Linked DNA regions of Homo sapiens. Changing the gene in region 1 together with any one later gene gives a genetic interaction. Each region holds a gene or a part of one and is shown in the gene's direction. Other genes may lie near its edges. The genes, in order: SPANXC and FLT3.

Region 1 (3,163 bases):
CTTAATGCAAAATGATAAAGGTTACAAGGTTTATAGAAATTATATTTTATACTCAAGATGATTAAACTTTTATTATAAAATTTCAAAAAAACAAATTTCATTTGCCGCATCCTGTTTTTAATTAGGGCTTATTGTTTGGGATATTAAGCCTCCTCTCTCAAAGAATAAAGATTTTCACCTTTTTTTTTTCTTTTTTGAAATCTTTGAGTTACTGCTTTGGTTAAATGAATGACTTATTTTACAATGACCCATGACCCTATTTCGTGATATCAAGCATTTTAAACTTTTTATCTTTGACGAACTTTCCAAAGTCAAATTCTAACTTGATTCCTCATTAATTTTTTGATATGAGTCCTCTGAAGTCCAAAAGAGACATATTGGTCTTATTTGGTATAAAAATCATACAAGAAGCATCGTCAAATATAAAATGCTGTTTGACTTTCTTTGGGCTGTATTTATAGAAATGTCATTGATATGTGCTCCAAAATTATGGGAAACTCTTATACTTCTGAAATAACTTGTGTATGTTATTAATTATAACTTTTATGTTAAATTCTTGTATGCTACAGAAGTAACCAAAATTTACTTGTCAATGGTGGTTTTAATAATGGCTGTCCTGGCTGGGTGTGGTGGCTCACGCCTGTAATCCCAGCACTTTGGAGGCCAAGGCGGGTGGATCACGAGGTCAGGAGTTCAAGACCAGCTTGGCCAAGATGGTGAGACCCCCGTCTCTCCTAAAAATACAAAAATTAGCCGGGCGTGGTGGCACAGGCCTGTAATCCCAGCTACTCAGGAAGCTGAGCCAGAGAATCACTTAAACCCAGGAGGCAGAGGTTGCAGTGAGCTGAGATCATGCCATTGCACTCCAGCCTGGGCAACAACAGTGAAACTCCATTTCAAAAAGAGAAAAAAATATACACCCCTGATTTGAAACAAGACTAGGATACACGGTAAAGAATGTTTATTCACTAAAGTTTTGACAGACTGAAGGCCATTATTTCAGATTGGAGATAGGAAACTTAAAAGAACTACATGGACATTGGGTAAAAGAACATGGGTTGAAATTTGCCTGGCAGTAGCCCAAAAGTAAATGGTCTTCGAGGTGCATGTGAAGGAACTGTAGGAGGGAAATGGGATAATTCACATCTCTGCCAATAAATAAATGTAGCCACACTAGCTTGGGGGATTTGAGGTGAGACATCGAAAATACTAAGTCATGGTGAGGGCTGGAAGACAAAAGAATGAATCACTTAATAGGAATGGCTGTGGGGAAGGGCTTGAAGGAATCATCCTCTGACTTCCATGTGAACCGTGAACATTAAACATGGAGAAATGAGGAGCGGCGGCAGATCGGTTTGGGATGCATCTTCAGGGGATGCTGAAACAACAACAGCATTTGGTTTGCTCTACACCCCTGTCACCCCTCGCCCGCAAGCCCAGGGAGTGGTCAGCAGTGGGGCTTTGTGATGTGAAGCCACCCTAGGGCTGCCATTGGCTGGGACACTGCCTGTATGATCAAACAAAGCTCAAGGGTGTGGCTTTGCCTTGTCACCAGGAGGGTATATACAGGGAGGGCAAGAGCTCCGGGCCACTGCGAAGATTCAAAACCTACAAAAGCCTGCCGCTGACATTGAAGAACCAATATATACAATGGACAAACAATCCAGTGCCGGCGGGGTGAAGAGGAGCGTCCCCTGTGATTCCAACGAGGCCAACGAGATGGTAAGACTGTTAGGTTTTGAATTGAAGGCGAGGGTGAAAGAAAGACACACAGAGCGGGGGCGGCTCAAACAACAACACAGGAATATTGCAGACCATTGTGGAAGTGGGGGGCCCGCTTAATGCCAGAGCCCACCGCCGCTTACAGGCTGGGGTGCTTGTAGGTAGGGGTGGGAGGGGCCTGGGCAGTATGGCTTGCTGCCCGGCAGGATATTGATAAGATGTTCTTATGATCAGGTGGTTTGGCCCTTTTTCTGGTGGAATATCATTGTGGTGTTCCTTAGAACGCTGCCAAGCAAGATATGATAGGGATGTTTCTTCAGTTGGGCCTTTGTCCGCCTTGCGGACAGGTGGTTAGGCAGGATGTTTCTCACGGCCTGAACCCCCATGGGATGTTTCACTTTGACCAAGGTCTGCAAAATAGCAAAGAACTGACAAAATGGTGCAGTTTGGACTCACAGGTGACCCTACCCACGCTCCTCTTCTTCTTCCCCATAGATCCCTACTCTGTGCTTCAACCTTCTTCTTCTCTGGATCAAACCCCTTCCTCAACCCGCATTCCTTCTTCTCATGAAGCCCCCTTGCTATCCAGTCTCTATCCTGTTCACCCAAAATAATGTCCTCCTGGCCTCTCCCTGCTTTCTTAACAGATGCCGGAGACCTCGAGTGGGTACTCAGACCCGCAACCTGCTCCGAAAAAACTAAAAACATCTGAGTCCTCGACCATACTAGTGGTTCGCTACAGGAGGAACGTGAAAAGAACATCTCCAGAGGAACTGGTGAATGACCACGCCCGAGAGAACAGAATCAACCCCCTCCAAATGGAGGAGGAGGAATTCATGGAAATAATGGTTGAAATACCTGCAAAGTAGCAAGAAGCTACATCTCTCAACCTTGGGCAATGAAAATAAAGTTTGAGAAGCTGATGGCTGTGTATATCTCTGCCTGTTTTCTGATGGTGGCGGGGGAAGGGAAGGGAAGGGAAGAGGTAGGCATTTGAGAAGGGAGGGATATGAGGTCCTGTAGGGTTGGTGGACAGACCCACAGGTTGACAGTAAGCCAGACATTGTAAATAAGGCCTGGGGGAGGACTGATTCCTAAAGAAAATTTTCTTCTTAAAATTTTATCTCACAGGAAGTGGAGATGTGTATATGTTCACGCAACTGTACCCGGCAGCACATAGTTCTGCTGAATGTACATATCAAAGGTATTCCCATCCCCTTTCCATTTGATATTTTCCTAGGCTAGAAATAGATGCTTTATAAAGCGTAAATGTTCTGTAAAACACAAAGCACAATACAAAAGAAGATAGTAGATGTAGGAGTAAGTAAACGGCAGGAAAGCATTGCTTGTGATGAAATGATTGAAAAGCCAATTCTAAAACAAAATGTTCAATGCATCTTAAATATTTGTTAGTGTTTTAATGACCTCAGCAGTCTTTAAT
Region 2 (4,129 bases), on another chromosome or scaffold:
GACTCTGTCACAACAGCAACAGCAACAACAAAAAAAAAAAAAAAAAAGGAAAGAAAGGTCACTTAAAGAAATGGAAAAGAGTGATGTATTACAACTATACCCAGTAACTAGCTATGGGAGTGGAGAGAGATTGTCAGAGATGGTTCTAGAAACTTCTAGACAGTGAGACTGGATGAAGAGCACATGTTAGTTAATTCAGGTGGAAGATTGGAAGTGTTATTGGTATTTGTGCTACACAAACTTCATGAGGTGGTTAGAAATTCAGTGGTAGAGATGTACATTTGGATTCAACAGGTTCAACAAATGCTAACTAACTGCTATGTCTACTTCACAAAAGGCACGCATGAGTAGTTACTGTTCATCCTTCAGGGTACAAGCAAAGCTGTCATTGTGCAACACCTGGTTCACAATGGATATATTTTGGGTCAAAGGATACACACACACACACACACACACACACACACACACAATTTTCTAGAAAGAAAAGTGAAGTGTAGGAGGCAGTCTGGACAGTTCACATTAAAACTGTCAAAAACAAAGAAAAAGAAGTAGACAGTAACAAGGGCTGTGGGAACGGAACAAATCTATAAAATTTAAATAGAATGCATGATTCCTAAATCATAAAGTTCTTATAAACAAATAATAATAAAAATGTATCACCTTTTAAAAACTTATTTCTTTTAGAGACAGGATCTTGCTATGTTGGTTAGTTTGGTCTTGAACTCTTGGCCTCAAGCAATCCTCCCGCCCCGGCCTCCCAAAGTGCTAGGATTACAGAGTTGAGCCAGTACACCCAGCCTGTATAGCCTTTTATATACATAAAAGGCAAAGGAAATAGGCAGGCTATTCAAAATGAAAACAAATGGACATAAAGTATAGGAAAAAGGCCCAACTTTGCAGATAGTGAAACATATATAGTTAAGGAGATAGAACTTCTTGCTCAGCAAAAGAGAAGAGATGTGGGAGGCTGACATACCCATTGTTCAGAAGGCTCTGGAAAATATAGTTTCCAGGCACCGTTGATAGGAGTAGAAATAAATACAACCTTTCTGCAGGGCAGCCTGGCCTTGTGTATCACAGTTCAAGTGTGCATCCTTTTTGATCCAGCAATTCCACTTCTGCTTATCCCAACGTCAGACTAGATTGAGTGTGCACTTTTCAGTTTGTTTCGTATAACCAGTTGGTCAAAAGGTTAATTATGATGCATCAGTACTATGGAACTCTAGGCTGCCGTGAAAAAAAAATATGTGGCCATCCTTAGTGAATAATGTAAATATGTGACACAGGCAACATATGAGCAGTATAATAACAATATATTGATAATTCAAAATAAGGTTCCAAAATAGAATATATAGCCTGAGCCCACAGACACAAAATTGTGTGTGCATAGCAAGCTGTCTATAATGGCGGGTACTTGTCATGACTTGTAGCCTTTTTTCTTTTTTTTGAGATGGAGTCTTGCTCTGTCACCCAGGCTGGAGTGCAGTGGCACAATCTAGGCTCACTGCAGCCTCCACCTCCCAGGTTCAAGCAATTCTCCTGCCTTAGCCTCCCAAGTAGCTGGGACTGCAGGCGCGCGCCGCCATGCCCGGCTAGTTTTGTATTTTTAGTAGAGACAGGGTTTCTCCACGTTGGCTAGGCTGGTCCTGAACTCCCAACCCCAGGTGATCCGCCCGCCTCGGCATCCCAAAGTGCTGGGATTACAGGCATGAGCCACTGCGCCCGGCCTTCTACGTCTCTTTCTGTATTTCTCAAATTATCTATATGAATGCATGTTAACTTCATATTTGGGAAAGGAAAGTAAATCTCTTCATTTCAGAAAAAAATATTTAAAAGTCGTGAAACTCCAAGGGAAAACTCAAGAATCAGTCCCTTGTATTAACTCCATAATGAACAGATTTCCTTTTGTGGCCTTTCTCTTTTATGATTTTTCTGCATGGTTTTAGGATTTCTAGGGTGACATTTTATATCTGAGAGTAGACTCAATAATGAAATAAAATATTTGACTATGATTTGATTTCTCCATTAATAAAAGGACCAAAATTGCTTTTTTAGTTATATAGAATATCCTCTGAGACCTATGCATAATAAAAGTACTTGTCTACACGTTTCCTGAAAATATGTACATCTATTATATATCAGTTTAAACATTTTAAAAGTGATGTCTAGGCCGGGCGTAGTGGCTCACACCTGTAATCGCAGCACTTTGGGAGGCCGGGGTGGTGTGGGATCACTTGAGCCCAGGAGTTTGAGACCACCCTGGACAACATAGTGAGACTTTGTCTTTACAAAAAATAAAAAAATTAGCAGGGTGTGGTGGAGCCTGCTTGTGGTCCCAGCTACTCAGGAGGTTAAGGTGGGAGGATTGCTCAAACCCAGAACATCAAGGCCACGGTGAACTATGGTTGTACCACTGCACTCCAGTCTGGGCAACAGAGCGAGACTCTGTCTCAAAAAATAAACAAACAAACAACAAACAAACAAAAAAGTAATTGTCTATATAGAACAACTGTTTTTATTTAAATAATTTGTAATATGGGCGCATAACATGTGCATCTACATCAGATGGTAATCAGTGTTCTGTCTCTTTCCCACATTCAGATGTATCAGAATGTGGATGGCCGTGTTTCGGAATGTCCTCACACCTACCAAAACAGGCGACCTTTCAGCAGAGAGATGGATTTGGGGCTACTCTCTCCGCAGGCTCAGGTCGAAGATTCGTAGAGGAACAATTTAGTTTTAAGGACTTCATCCCTCCACCTATCCCTAACAGGCTGTAGATTACCAAAACAAGATTAATTTCATCACTAAAAGAAAATCTATTATCAACTGCTGCTTCACCAGACTTTTCTCTAGAAGCTGTCTGCGTTTACTCTTGTTTTCAAAGGGACTTTTGTAAAATCAAATCATCCTGTCACAAGGCAGGAGGAGCTGATAATGAACTTTATTGGAGCATTGATCTGCATCCAAGGCCTTCTCAGGCTGGCTTGAGTGAATTGTGTACCTGAAGTACAGTATATTCTTGTAAATACATAAAACAAAAGCATTTTGCTAAGGAGAAGCTAATATGATTTTTTAAGTCTATGTTTTAAAATAATATGTAAATTTTTCAGCTATTTAGTGATATATTTTATGGGTGGGAATAAAATTTCTACTACAGAATTGCCCATTATTGAATTATTTACATGGTATAATTAGGGCAAGTCTTAACTGGAGTTCACGAACCCCCTGAAATTGTGCACCCATAGCCACCTACACATTCCTTCCAGAGCACGTGTGCTTTTACCCCAAGATACAAGGAATGTGTAGGCAGCTATGGTTGTCACAGCCTAAGATTTCTGCAACAACAGGGGTTGTATTGGGGGAAGTTTATAATGAATAGGTGTTCTACCATAAAGAGTAATACATCACCTAGACACTTTGGCGGCCTTCCCAGACTCAGGGCCAGTCAGAAGTAACATGGAGGATTAGTATTTTCAATAAAGTTACTCTTGTCCCCACAGTCCCCTTCATTTTATTTTTATTTATTTGTTTGTTTATTTAATGTTTTAGTGACAGGGTCTCACCCTGTCTCCCAGGCTGGAGTGGAGTGGTGAGATCACAGCTCACTGCAGCCTGAAACTCCTGGCCTCAAGCGATCCTCCCACCTCAGCCTCCTGAGTGGCTGGGACTACAAGCACAGGCCACCACGCCCAGCTAATTTTTAAAATTTTTTGTAGAGATAGTGTCTTGCTATGCTGTGCAGGCTGGTCACAAATTCTTGGCCTCAAACAGTCCTCTTGCCTCAGCCTCCTAAAGTGCTGGGATTACAGGTGTGAGCCATGGCGACCAGCCCTCTTTGTCCTTTGAAGCTTAGCACCCTCCATCCTGTAGGCTTATGAACTTGGTTTGTGCCCCCGCCCCGCCCACCTCCGCTTACACGACAGGTGCCACCAAATTCTGCCTCTTCTTTCTCCTCCACCTCCTGTTGCATGTAGTGGTGAGGGACAAGGGATCTGGAACCGGTCAGCCCAGGTTGGAATTCTCTTTTCACCTGGCCTTAGCTGTGTCATTGGGGCAAGTAACTCAACTTCTCTAGCCTCAGTTTCCTTTTCTGAAAAATGGGACACTAATGGCATCTCTTTTATAG

What was found.
Region 2: changes in SPANXC (region 1) and FLT3 together harm fitness less than expected from each alone (positive genetic interaction), as found in Homo sapiens cells (one study listed by BioGRID).

What each region holds. Positions count from the first base shown.
Region 1 is NC_000023.11:141,240,945-141,244,107, reverse strand, and holds SPANXC (sperm protein associated with the nucleus on the X chromosome C), read left to right. Parts: upstream 1-1,590; 5' UTR 1,591-1,650; coding exon 1,651-1,722; intron 1,723-2,369; coding exon 2,370-2,591; 3' UTR 2,592-2,645; downstream 2,646-3,163.
Region 2 is NC_000013.11:28,002,647-28,006,775, reverse strand, and holds the end of FLT3 (receptor-type tyrosine-protein kinase FLT3 precursor), read left to right. Parts: intron 1-2,601; coding exon 2,602-2,724; 3' UTR 2,725-3,502; downstream 3,503-4,129. UniProt on the Homo sapiens protein: Tyrosine-protein kinase that acts as a cell-surface receptor for the cytokine FLT3LG and regulates differentiation, proliferation and survival of hematopoietic progenitor cells and of dendritic cells.